Homo sapiens: one gene and its partner. The protein of the gene in region 1 interacts with the protein of each later gene in a pairwise test. Each region holds a gene or a part of one and is shown in the gene's direction. Other genes may lie near its edges.

Evidence for each region. Proteins that work in one complex are often made in the same cells at the same time.
Region 2: the proteins of DAPK1 (region 1) and UNC5B interact in a two-hybrid assay, tested with the Homo sapiens proteins (one study listed by BioGRID).

The regions. Positions count from the first base shown.
Region 1 is NC_000009.12:87,633,863-87,640,883, forward strand, and holds part of DAPK1 (death-associated protein kinase 1), read left to right. Parts: intron 1-4,080; coding exon 4,081-4,219; intron 4,220-5,491; coding exon 5,492-5,621; intron 5,622-5,787; coding exon 5,788-5,836; intron 5,837-5,926; coding exon 5,927-5,953; intron 5,954-6,435; coding exon 6,436-6,588; intron 6,589-6,939; coding exon 6,940-6,985; intron 6,986-7,021. UniProt on the Homo sapiens protein: Calcium/calmodulin-dependent serine/threonine kinase involved in multiple cellular signaling pathways that trigger cell survival, apoptosis, and autophagy.
Region 2 is NC_000010.11:71,208,659-71,215,569, forward strand, and holds the start of UNC5B (netrin receptor UNC5B isoform 1 precursor), read left to right. Parts: upstream 1-3,911; 5' UTR 3,912-4,327; coding exon 4,328-4,406; intron 4,407-6,911. UniProt on the Homo sapiens protein: Receptor for netrin required for axon guidance. Mediates axon repulsion of neuronal growth cones in the developing nervous system upon ligand binding.

The DNA.
Region 1 (7,021 bases):
TGAGATGGAGAAGAGTGTGCATGGTGTTTATTAAGAACTATACTTAGGATCAAGATTTGGAGAAGAGGAGAAGGGGGCAGGAATGGGTTTAGTGGCAGCCCCAGTTGGCCAACAGGGAGTTCTGGGGCCAGAATGACCCTTGAGAGTTGCCCCAGGTTGGGCTGTGATGACCTAGTCTTTATATCAGGGATCAGCAAGTTATGGCCTATAGGCCAAACCCAGGTTGCCACCTATTTTTTAACTAAAGTTTTATTGGAACACAGCCACACCCATCATGTACATGTCATCTGTGGCTGCTTTCATGATACATTAGCAGAGCTGAGTAGTTGGGACAGACTGCAAGGCTGGCAAAGCCTAAAATATTTAGGATCTGCCCTTGATGGAAGTTTGGCAGGCCCTGTTATGTTCCCTCATTGATCAGTTGCTGAATGGACAGTCTCTGACCTCTGTGGCCTCGGCTGCGCTGGAGGGTCCCCTTCTAAGGTGCCTTCCTTGCTCGAGGCTCCTTGGCCTTGTTCTCCAAGGACATCTCTTCTTCCTGGGTTTCTCCACGTGGCACAGTGGTTTGGCATCGTCGTACTTCTTGCATCTTACCTGAGGGCTTCAGGAGGTGGGACCTGGAGGCCCCCAGTCCATGAAAAGCCACAGCAGGGCTGGCAAAATCACTTGTGCCATTGGTCAAAGTGATCATGGGGCCTGCCCAGATTCAAGAGATGGAGCCACAGATGCCGCCCACTGCCTGAAGGAGGATGGCACAATCACGGTGCAGAAGAGCATGAGGATGAGATGCTGTCAGACCGTCTTCGGAAAAATGTGGAACACCATGGCAGGCCAGGTGGCTGCTCGGCAGTGCCGTGTCAATCCCAGCTCACCCAGGTCACCGCTGCAGTGCCTGTCCCTCCCCAACTCCACCCACGGTCCCTGACATCACGTGGGGAGGGAGTTTGAGATGGCCATGGTGGGAATGTGACACCTCGGGAATGGGCTCTACCCACCCCAACGCCAAAGAACCTGCTGCACACCCCTGCTGCCATGGGAGGACTTCTGGTTTGAAGCCACATGGGAAGAAAGACAGCAGCATTTATTGAGCACTAAGGGTCGCTACATGTCCTGGAACCTCAGGATGACTCCGTAAGCTATGATGTTACCCTTTATTTTATAGAAGGGGAGTCAGAGGCTCAGCAAGGTTGGAGGCCCTGGCAGGATTTGAACCATGGTCCCCTCGTTTTTGCCATCCTGCCTCACAGAAGACGGAGCTGGCAGGAGAAGGAGATCCTGGGTCTGAAGAAAGCTTAGGTTGGCAGGGAGGGAGAGAAAGCTGGCCAGAGAAGAGCGGGCAAAGCCTGAGGCCAGGGCAGCATGGGGTTGCCAGAAGGCTGGACAGTGGAGTCCCTGGAAAGGACTCAGGGCCAGCAGACTGCGCCAGCTGTGTGGGTGCTGGAAGATTCACCCCAACCAGGCAGCCAAACTCCTGACGTTTCTCATTGTCTGAAAAATGCATCTCTGTACTCTAAGACAACACAAGCAGAATGCGAGTGAGGTGGGCTCGGGAGGCCCTGAAGAGGGCCACGGAGAGAAAGCCGGCGGCTGGGCACCACATTCACAGCAGAAGTTTCAGTTCCTTCCCCTCACCTTCTTCCTGGGAAGCACAGTGGTTAGGCTCAACCAATGGACCAGTTTTAGGAGGAGGAGCGGGCAGGAAGGGGCTTTCATATTGGATCCTGTAGGAAGCAGTGGTATGCTACAGGGGTGACAGTGGCCTTCTTTATAACAACACTCGTTCCCGCAAGCTGGACCTTACCCACGTGCCAGCCTTGCCAGTTACACATGTCTATTACCTTTCATCCTCATAACCTTCAAGGGAAGAGGTCTTATGACTCCTCTTTGGGGAAATGAGGCTCAAGAGAAGGGGTAACCTTCCGGGTTTCAGGGTGAGCGCGTGGCAGAAGTTAAGACTTGGACTGGATGCAGGCACTTGACTTCTCCACATCACGTGGCCACGGTGCCTGAGTCAGCCCAGTGGTGCGGGGCGCCCCAGAGAGCACAGAAGCCAGGGCTGGAGACCCAGGTGTGATGGGAGAGCTTTCTTTGGGTGAGGTTGGTTCACAATCTCCCACTTTTTCCCCCCTATAGTTGAAGGATTTTCTCTCCCCGTTGTTTGTTTTAAGAATAAGATGCAAAAGTGAGAAGCGGGAGGCCTTGCCTTGTTCCGTGGGCAGACAGTGTGGGGGCTGTGAGGCCAAGGACACCTGGGAGGGGAGAGGGTGGGGGCAGACTGCATCTCCCAAGAGCAGGGTGGGGAGTGCAGGGAAGGGTCAGGAGGAGAGCAAGGCCACTGCTGAGGCAGGGTCCATGTAGGACACCTTTCGCTTGGACTCCTGGATGTCCTGGCTGGGCCCAGGCCCTGCTGTGTCCCCTGGAGGATAGGGGAGGCCTGTGGACTGCTCACAGGAGGGTGTGGCTACCTCTGCCAGGCCCCTGGGGATAGGAGAGTCACTCCACCATCCCCGTAAACCAGTGGGAGGCCCTGCAGCAGGAGCGTGGAATTAAGACGTGGGAAAATGGTCTCAGTTTTTCAGGTGCTTGTTAAAGATGCTGAGTTTTCTGGTCACCATTCTTGGAAGCCCTCACACAGCAGATTGAAAGTGAGGCTCAGAATCTTCATTTTTAAAGCATCCTCAAATAATTCTGATACCCATGGACTCTAGACCGTGCTAAGGAAAACACTGACCTGGAGGGTGAAGGCATGTGGGATCTGAAACTTTTAAGAAAACAGCTTTTTTGTCATTCTTATCTGATCTTATGAGCACCAATTTTCTTACTCTGAATGGATGTAGATGTGGAAGGTATAATGTTTGGGGAGCGCTCTTGCCCTAAGAGAGATAATGAATACAGCAGTTTGTGCATAATTGCACTTAATTATTATGTTGTGAATATATGGTTAAACTTGATAAAGATTAACTTATAAAAACTCTTATTAAAACTTCCCTGTTATTTGCCATTCATCGCTATCGTGGAGTTTTTAGGGGAGCTTGTTCGTCCATCCACCTGATAAAGTTTTGAATGCATGCTGTGTGCCTGGCTCTGGCGGGGAGTGGGGCATACAGCAGTAGCCAATAGCTGGGGTGGGAGGTTCTGACCACTCCCCTCCACCCACTTACAGTCTGGACAGAGAAATAAACTAAAAAAATCCGCAACCAACAACATACATTTTGCTTTTTTTGTAAATGTATTCTTTTTTTTTGTTTTTTTGAGACAGTCTCGCTCTGTCACCAGGCTGAAGGGCAGTGGCACAATCTTGGCTCACTGCCACCTCCGTCTCCCAGGTTCAAGTGATTCTCCTGCCTCAGTCTCCCGAGTAGCTGAGACTACAGGCACACGTCACCATGCCCAGTTGTTTTTTGTATTTTTAGTAGAGACGGTGTTTCTCCATGTTGGCCAGGATGGTCTCGATCTCTTGACCTTGTGATCCGCCCGCCTCAGCCTCCCAAAGTGCTGGGATTACAGGTGTGAGCCATTGCGCCCAGGCTACTAAATGTGATTTTTATAAATGTGTTAGTATTTACATACAAACCAATACTAGACAAGAGAGGAAAAAACCCTTATCAGACCATATATTGTGAATTTGAGTTTTAAAGAATTAATTAAACATGCAAGTTATGAACTTTTCAGGTACTCTCTAATTGAAATAAGAAGATATACACTATAAATTCTGTACAAAGCTGGCTTGCAGATTTTTTTCTCGTCATTAGAGTTAAGACATCACCTCTAAGTATGTTTAATTAAAATGTTTTCAAGATACACTGATATTTTCTTCACAGCATTTCATCTCTGCCCCTCCTCTCATTTGTGAACACGGAACCTTAGGAAAATGGTTCCCAAGTGCTTTCAAGCACAAATGTGTCTGAATGCAGAATTGTCAACAACCTGCACAGAGAATTCTGAATCCATGCTTGGCGGTTTCAGCATAGTCTTTATGCTGTTTTCTTGTCTGAAGTTTGAGCGCACCAATAGTCTATGAGAGAAGGAATCAATATGAAACAGAGTTGTTACCAATAACCTCTGCTTCCGGGTTCTCAGCGTTGCAGGTGGCGAGCTGTTTGACTTCTTAGCTGAAAAGGAATCTTTAACTGAAGAGGAAGCAACTGAATTTCTCAAACAAATTCTTAATGGTGTTTACTACCTGCACTCCCTTCAAATCGCCCACTTTGATCTTAAGGTACGTTTCAAAGTGTAAGCCAGATAGAAGCTTGTGCAGATCACAGCCTTGGTTGTTTCTCTGCTAAGAAAAATTGAGGCATCTGAAAGAGTTACATGATTTTCCTGTACCAGTTTAACAAACAGAAATATCACTATAAATCGGCAAGCATAGGATACATGCCCCCCACTGGGATGGCTAACCTTTTTGTGGGATAGAGGCTTAATGATAATTGATTACATTCTGGAATTCTTGGTAAAGAATACAAGGGGTCTTAGGAGCCAGGTTTTTTAGTAAGGGGGCTGCTCTAGCCAGCAGCTAGTGACTGGCACTGGTTCCTTCTGTGGCTCTGGGCATGTTAAGATAGAAAATGTGTTGAGTGATGCAAAGGCGTATGGCCTGACTCTGTCACCAATAATCAAGCAAACCAAACTCAGATTGGCTAATTGGGGCATTTGCCTGGCTGGATGCAGGACGCTGTTGGAGATGAAAGGGCATGTAAGCCGTCCTCCCAGCCATGACAGAGGTGTGGTCTCTTTGGGAAGGGAAGACACGACAGGAGCAATAGGAAGTGGCAATGGTGGGAAGTTCCAGTTCAAGGCAGGAAGAGGTGGTCTGGTAAAGCAGCGCGTGCTCCATCCGAGTAGTTGATTCAGACCAGTAGAGCTGGGATAGGATTTCAGAGGAGGGAGGATTTTCCCCATTCTTCTGTAGCAGAGCTGTCAATGTCCCATTCATGTCCCTGCTGGCCCCACAAACAATGTGCAAAAGCACACACTCATATACATCCTAACAGAGGGCTTGTTGCAAATACCTGTGACTCTTCCTGGCATCTTGTTTCTGGCCCTGGGAGCTGGAAATGCAAAAGAAAAATGTCCACAGAAGCAACTGTCAGCCATGGAGGATGGAGAAATGGTGGATAAAGACCCCAGCTCCCTCCTGCTACAATTGGAATAACACTGAGTTCTCCTTTTCCTCTCCCATTCCCCCAGTTACCCCCACTTGATAGGACACCTCGTAGCAGCTTCCTTCTGTTTCCTGTATCTCCTTTCTCTACCAAGTGTTTCCTGGTGTCCCCTCCCACATAACCCACTTGCATCCGAATCCTTGTCTCAGGCCTGCTTCAGGGAGAACCTAGAGCAAGACATGTATTTTCCTGCTGTTCTCTTCCAACCACCCTTTCTTCCCTACTTTTTGGCCTTTTTTTTTTTTTTGGAGAGAAGAACTATTCTGCCATCTTGTCCTCAGCATAACATATCATAGCTTTTTATTTATCTCTCTCTTTTTTTCAAGCCTGAGAACATAATGCTTTTGGATAGAAATGTCCCCAAACCTCGGATCAAGATCATTGACTTTGGGTTGGCCCATAAAATTGACTTTGGAAATGAATTTAAAAACATATTTGGGACTCCAGAGTTTGTCGGTAAGTTTCTTTGCTCCTGTGGTCATTTACGTCTCATAAACATTATTCTGGCAAACCTCCCCTGCTAGAAGATTCTTTCCCTGCTACATGTTCCTGGTTGTTGCATGAAGATAGAATCGGTTAGTTTGCTTCCTCCCAAGCTAAATGAGTGTTTGTTTCCTCTTAGCTCCTGAGATAGTCAACTATGAACCTCTTGGTCTTGAGGCAGATATGTGGTAAGGAGTATGTCCTTGGTGTTGTTTGCTTTCTGATTTATTTGACTATTCTTCTGACATGTTTTTTTGTTTGTTTTGTGTTGTTTTTAGGAGTATCGGGGTAATAACCTATATCCTGTAAGTATCAGAATTCACAACTCATACTCTCTTCTCTTCTATGAGACCATAGGTTTAATTAACCATTAAATGTGCTGTGTTGATCTCTTCAGCTTATGCATGCTTTTGATGCAAACATATTCATTTTACACCCCCAAAACATGTTTAGTTTATACTAATTAAACATGTTCTCCTAATTTGAAATGAGTCATCAGAAACTGTAGCATAATCACTGAAAGAAAGCATAGCTGTCCATCACTGCCGAGAAAACAGGTTTCCTTTAAACTACCAGACGCTGTTCCAGATTAACTTGTTAAGTGAATCCTTTTGCCTGAAGCTGAAGCATTTGCTCCTGACAGTTAAAGCCCTATGAAATATAATCAAACTGTGACTATTCGAGCACCAGATTATAATCTTATTCCACACTCCAGATGTTATAGGAGCAAAATGACAACACCAAGGGGTCATCATTAATGTTCTATGCCCAACTTTATTTTTAACAGCCTAAGTGGGGCCTCCCCATTTCTTGGAGACACTAAGCAAGAAACGTTAGCAAATGTATCCGCTGTCAACTACGAATTTGAGGATGAATACTTCAGTAATACCAGTGCCCTAGCCAAAGATTTCATAAGAAGACTTCTGGTCAAGGATCCAAAGTGAGTGTCCACGTTCCTGAAAGGTGCTTGGCCACGGCCTCAGCCAGCCCAGAGCCTGTGTCTGTTCCATGCACAGGGCCACGTTCCTCAGACCCTGCTTGCTTCATCTGCCAAAGGGCAGCATGCCATGTGAAACGCTTCAGAAAATGCAAGCAGGGCCCTCTGCCCCCACTCAGTCAGTCCCTGCAGGCACAGTGAAATAATCACAAAAAGACCGATGTTGTTTTTGGCTTTCTTCCCTGAACTGCATTTTCCACAGTATCTGCTTGGCAGGCCCAGCCAGCATGAAAACAACCTTAGTATTTGCTGCTATGGTCACAGCATTTTTTTTCTTCTCCCCCTCCCCTCAAGGAAGAGAATGACAATTCAAGATAGTTTGCAGCATCCCTGGATCAAGGTGAGTTGCATATTACGAAACTGTTTAGATCACTTT
Region 2 (6,911 bases), on another chromosome or scaffold:
AAAACCTCTGCCTTCTGGGTTCAAGCGATTCTCGTGCCTCGGCCTCCCGAGTAGTTGGGATTAACAGAGCACGATACCATGTCTAGCTAATTTTTGTATTGCTAGTAGGGATGGGGTTTCGCCATGTTGGCCAGGCTGGTCTTGAACTCCTGACCTCAAGTGATCCGCCCGCCTCCGCCTCCCAAAGTGCTGGCATTACAGGCGGGAGCCACTGTGCCCGGCCGAAGAGATTTAGAATAGTACCTGGCATATAGTAAGCACTCAACCTTAGCTCTGATAATATTATTACAAAGAGATGGTAAAGCGTTAAGGACTTCAGCTTTAGGCGCTTCCCTTCTCCAGGGTCCAGGTTTTTGGGGTCCGTTCTGGACCGAACGACTCAGGGGAGGCACCGTGAACTCATTCCCAAGCCTTCCCACTCAAGATCCTGCAAACGGAGTCGTCTGAGTGCCACTTCCCCTGACAACCCGGGACAAGGACTCTGTCAGGGCGGCCCCAGGCGGGGTGGGGCCAGGACAATTCTCCCATCGCCGGAGGAGGGAGACTGGCGGCCACGGGGAGGCGTAAGCGGCAGCGCGCCGCCTGGTGGCACCTTCGCGCACACGGTCCCGACGGAGCGGGAGGCGTCAACCCCAAGCCGGCAGCCACTCCTGCCGGGAGCCCCTACAGCTGCTTTTAAATCGTAATTGTTATCAAATAGGCGGTTTTTATACAGCCAGATTATTGGCCTTATTATTCTTCTTAATACTGTGAAGTAATTATTATTCCTGTTTTACAGTTGAGGAAACTGACGCTGGGAAAGTTTCAGTAACTGGCTTAAGATCCGCCAGCAGGTAAGAGCAGCCCCCAGGTTTAGGGCCACAGCCCTCCAGATCCAGAACTCTTTCCTACACACTCCTGTGGTTTGAGACAAGTGATGGTAGCCGCTGGAAGCATCTGCAGTCCCCACCAAGGGTGAGAACTGGCTCTGGGACTGATTTCAAAGCAGATCTATGCCACAAAGCCTGCCCTACTTTCAGCCTCAGAACCCCCAGACCCCAGGAAATAGAGGGGAGGGGAGGGTGGGGCTCACATAGCAACTCTTAGGCCCTTTGACCATCAACCCCTTTCCCCCCAGCCTTATTGATGTACCCACTCAACCAAGGTTGATTGCATCCCTGCTATGCCAGAAACTGTCTTCAGTGCTAGATATATCATGGGGAACAGGGAACACAGGGCACCTGACTTCAAGCAACTCACTGCTTCGTCCTCATGCTTAACTCCCAGCAGGATGCCTTTGCTGTGAGGCCCATGGCACTCGGTTTGGGAACACCCTGGCAAATCTTAATCCTGCTATCCTAATGTGTCATCCCCCAGGCAGGGACCCTGCCCATTCTTCACCCATCCCGGGGAAAGGTATGGCTCAGGGGGAGTCTGACTCCCTCTGAAGCCCCTTGCCTGGCCTCAACTGACAGCCTGCACTCTTGAGATGCCAGGGCTGGAGAGGAACCACATCTGCAACTGCTCAGCTGCAGGTGGCTAGAGAAGGCTCAGAGACTTGGTACAGGAGCAGGGGCACAGAGCAGTTACAGAGAGATTCCCAACATGCAAAATCCCATGCCCTGATGCTGGAGTCCTGGAGGGAGAGCAGGGCCCGGGACCTCCCAAGAGTATATTTCAAGAGTTGAGAGAGTGGTTAGGCTGAGAAGGGAAGTGGGGCAGGGACTGGCAGGAGAGGGGGTAATGTCTTCCTTTTGCTTGCCCCCATCTCCAGTCCCCCTTCTCTCCACCCAGGAATTAAAGCCGTGAAACCTGATACTTGGACTAGAAGGGCCTGCTGGGTACACTTTACCACCTAAACAGCAAAGTTCCAAGGGGTGGAACTTTTTAGAAAAATCTCCAATACCCCACTGGCCTGAAGGAGAGAGAGAAAGAGGTTGGGGAGAGAGAGAGAACATGCTGTGGTCTCTGCATGCTGCCCGTCTCTGCTGAGGTCCCTGCTGAGCTCTCCAGCACAGGCACAACCTTGACCATGTGCCTGCATCCAGGGGATGACCGTCAGATGTGGGTCTTGGCACAGGCGTGCCTGTATGTGTTTCCTGGCAGTAGTTAAGTATCCAAATATCTATTTGTCTTGGGAGTCATCTGCCTATTTGTGTTTTTAGTTGTGTGCGCCTGTGTGTTTGCTTTTTTTAGGCATACATCTTTGGTATGTGGGTGTCTCTGGAGTCGGGTGCCTATTTGTAGGTGTGATGTTTATGGGAGGTGAAACATTGCACCTGTTGTCTTTGTTGTATGTTTTCGTGTGTGTACCTTTGCAGGTGTGTATGGGTGGGTAGTTGTGTGTGTGCATGTGTATTTGCAAGGTGGAGTTGGTTTGGGTGTGCTGAGCTGTTGACTGTCTCATCCACTGCCCTTGCTAGGGCTGTCAGAGGCCAAGCTAAGCAACCTACCTTTGCCCACAGCAGCCTTTCTCAATTGATGGAAGTTCTTCCCCCAGGGAGTCCCAGTCCACCTGTTGCCACCCTCCTGATGCTGGGTGCCCAGTCAGAGAGGGTTAGGGAGATGTGCTGATGGCATGCACGACCTCCCCTAGATACTCCAAGACCCCGGCTTGTGAGGGGAGTGTGTGTGGAGAGGGTACTAGTCCTGCCTTCACCTCACCTCTGGGGAAACAGCTAGGACAGTCCCCTTCGCACAGCCCAATCCAGCCCCAGGGAAGGTGTTCAAGTGAGGCTCCCCCGTTTAGAGGGTTTCTTTCCAATCCCATCTCCCCCATCCCCTTTGCTCAGTCACTCAGTCACTCCAAGCAGTGTGATCTCCGGCAGGTGGCTTTACACCTCTGTGCCTCAGGTCCTTCATCTGTAAAATGGGATGTAAATGGTGCTTACTTCAGAGGGTTGTGAGAATTAACTGACATGATGCATACAGAGTGCTTAGCCCTGTGCCTGGCACAGGGAAGGTCTTTGCCTATGTTAGCTGATCCGCTCGTTCTGATCTCTCTGGGTTTCAATCCCAAGACACTGCCCATCCTTCAAACCTCACCTGTCCCCACGTGCTCCTTGGACCACCTTTGGGTGGTCAGGACTTTCCCCCTGGAATCAGACTGGCTGGGAGGGGAGAATCTTGGAAAGAGATTATTGACACTTGCACTGCAATTTCCACACAAGTTTTAAAATTTAATTCTATACCCCCTTATGAAATAGTTATCCTTTTCCTCCATTTTACAGATGATGATGAAGGGAGCAATAGAATTGTTAAGTAACTTGTTCAAGGTCACACAGTAAATAAGGGGCAGAGTCCAAGTTTACACTGAGCCAAAAATGGCTGTCCCACTGTCAGGTAGGAGGCTAGTTTACAACAACGCAGGATCAGAGTGCTGGAGGGGTTTCCAGGGGTCTGGTTAACAGTTCTGCCGGAGATCATACAGACAAGCAGAGCCAGCCAGGATGATCCTAATCTATACCCAGCTTCATATCGCTGTAAGCCCCCGCGTAACCAGGACTTGGGTGTTCTCATTTTGGGAGCCTTTTTTTTGGAAAGACCCCCACATGTGGAAGGCAGAGCGCATACTACAGACAGGGGAGCCAAAAGTGAGAGTCCTATGTTTAATCAGAGGAGAAAGCTGACATGGCCAAGCCAAATGAAGGCGCAAAGCCAGATTTCCTTAATTTGGGGGAGCGAAAATTGGGCCGCCTCCACGTCCAGCCATTCTCCAGCGGCCGGGTTTTTCAAAACGCTGCGCCCAGCGTCTCGCGAGGACCCTCCCCCCGGGTCCCCCAGCTCTGCCGCGGCCGCGCCCAGATGGCCGTCGGATCCCCCCTCAAGGTCCCCCTGTCGGCTCCGCCCTCGGTCGCCCAGGCCCCGCCCCGGCCGCGCGCGGTCCCCTCGGTTGGCGAACTCACTCCGGCGAGCGAGCGGCGGCGCTCGGCATTGTGGCAGGCGGCTGGGGCCGGCTAGGGCGCCGGAGCCGCACGCAGCCGCGGGGCTCCGAGAGGCGCGCACTGGGGCTGGGACTGCGCGGCGCCGCCGCTGCGAGCGCCACTGAGCGGTCGCGCAACTTCGGAGGCACAGCGCCGGAGCCAGGCGAGCGCTCAGAGACCCGGAGCCAGAGGGGCGCGCCGGAGCCTCGTTCGAGAGCCGGCGCCAGGCACCCACCGCGCTCCGAGTGCCAGGCGGCCCTCCGCGCAGCGTGGCTTCCGCTGCCCCCACGGAAGGCACGGGCTGGCGCTGCCGGGCGCCGGGGAGGACGGCGAGGAGGAGGCGGCGGCGGCGGAGACGGCGGCGGCGAGACTGGGGCCAGGGAGACAGCCCTGGGGGAGAGGCGCCCGAACCAGGCCGCGGGAGCATGGGGGCCCGGAGCGGAGCTCGGGGCGCGCTGCTGCTGGCACTGCTGCTCTGCTGGGACCCGAGGCTGAGCCAAGCAGGTAGGAAGCGATCGGGTCTGGGGGCGCGGGGCTAGGGGACCCTTGCGCCTCACTCTGTCCTGAAGTTGAGGTGGTCTTTCGTCGCATCGATGCGCGCAGGAAAAGCGGCAAGGGCGCCCAAGTTAGAATGTAGATTTTACTGCCTCCCAAAGTGGGCAATGGCGCATCCACATCGCGGGAGCGGGGAGCAGGGAAGGGGCTTCACAGTAAGCTGAAAGGTCCCTGCTCGCTCCTGAAAGGGATCCCTTCTTCTCCCTGGAAGGGGTGTAGGAGTCAGGGTCTGAGTCTCCGGGAGGATCCGCCTCCTGGGGACGCCCGGCTCTCCGCGCGCCTGGCATCCGCCCCGAAAAAGAACATTGGCTACATAAGCAAGGTGTGCGCTCGCTGCCGTACGCCGGTAACTTACTAGTCTGGTCCCGGCTCGCCTAGGCTCTTACGCGCTATAGGGACAGCAATCTGCAGACTAGAGGGAGAGAGCGAAAAGACCTGCTGAACACAGGAAGCGCTTCGGTAGCCTCGGCAGGCCGGCTTGCAGGGCTCCTGAAGCGGGGAGGGCTAAGTCTTGCACACATAGCTTTCCCCGAGATCGCTGGGCCCGCAGGTCTGGAAGAATTATTATTATTATTATTATTATTATTATTATTAATTTTCTGAGTGTTGGAGAGTGTGTGTGTGTGTGTGTGTGTGTGTGTGTGTGTTGGATGCGGGTAGGGGTTCTTAGCGATCCTGCGGAGTTTCCTTTTAAATTGGTCACTGACATTCTCGCTGTCCGGGGAACAGACTAGGTGCGCTCTCCTTGGTACAGCGCCCGCTCTGGACCCACCAAGATGACTTCAGCGAACTGGTGGGCTCCGAAATAAAGTCCCTAACCCTCCTCTCTCGCCGTGGATGAATACGTTTCTCGCTCGTCCTGTAGCTGGACCCGGCGTCGCTGGCTGGGCTGCGTCTTCTCGGGGAGGCTGTGGACTGAATGGAGCCAGCCTCTCTCTGGTACCCGAACCCAAGCAAGTGGGCTGGCCACGGCTGCCGGGCGGCTCGGCTCCGGAGCCAGGTGGGGACGGGGCCTCCTGCACGGAGTCCTCTCTGAGTTGAGGCTGAGAATGGAGCAGGAAAACTGGAGCAGAAAGTGGACGAGATGACGCAGCCCTCCCCACCTCCTACCTCCTGCTGCGAAGTTGACATCCGCCCTTCCCCCCTCCATAGCCAAAGATTCCTCATTCTGGAATTAGTGATTCCCACGGCCAGGAGTGAGGGCTTGGCTTTAGCACATTCCCCACTTTTTTTTTTTTTTCTGGTGCAAGTCCTGTGCAGTAGAGTTACAACACTCAACCATTTGATCCAAGTTAATTATGATTTGGGCAGACTCTGGTATTTAAAGCAGTGTTTTGAAGTTGGAAGGTAATGATGGGGATGGGGAAGGCAGGCTGCTGAATGTCCAACCTTGTTTTAAAGGGTGCAGTTAGACGTGGGAGGTGCTTGGTTGGGGTGCTGGTTTCTGGTTGGAGGGGGTTTGAGGAGATGATTGAAGGGTAGGGTGAAGTCTCTGTAAATGGCACATGGGCAGGGTTGTGTCTTGGGAAGCTGCTTTTGTACCAGCAGGACAGTGGGATCAGGAATAAATACTTAGGTTACCAGGAATGAGGGGCTGCTGTAGGAGAAAGACAAGACTGGTTGGCCTATAGTTCTCTGGGTGGGTGGGCTTGGCCAAGAAGGCTGGGGGTGGCCTGCATTTCCTGCTTAACAAAGCATCCAGCCCCCACCTTCCCCAGAAGAAACCCCAGGCCCAGGGCTTTGATGGATTTGGGCACGAATGGTGCCCAGTCAGAAATGGCCTCTAATACCCGGCTTTGATTTCTCACCAGCGAGCAGAAGCGGTGTTGGAATTGTGCTCATTACTTAGTGCGGCAGTAGCTGCCTGCCCACCAGCCTGGAGAGGGGCCAACTGGTGGGGTCGGCCTGCAGCCTTCTCATTGCCCAGAATGTGTGGCCCTTAGAAACCTGCCTTCAGGAGGGAGAACATGTCCCTTCCTCCCACACAATCTTGTTTTTCTCTAATGCCACAGGCACAGAGCATCATTCTTTCAGAATGTTCTTTGGGTTTTTCCATTGGATCCTTCACAAGCTCCATTTCACTGATGGGGAAAATCAAGGCCAGAGTGTTGGCTTTCTCCAAATCTTGCCTTCACTTGGCCACAGATTGAAGACATGTGAAGGGCTCCTGTCCAATAGCCAGACTGATTCAAGCCCAGCAGACCCTCCCTCCTATTCTTATCCACCCACCCCTCTGCCATGAGACTCATAACAGACTGAGGCAGGCGAGGCTCTCTCTGCAAAGAGGGATCTTTACTGGGGGTGTCCAAGCTCCCCTCAAGTGGCAGGCACCTCTCTCTCCTTTTCCCCACCCCACCCCATCCCTGGTGAATATGGGAATGAGCTCCCTTTACAGCACTGAGAATATTTTTAAGCTGTAAAGTCTGATGCTGGAGAAATCAAAACTGGAACCAT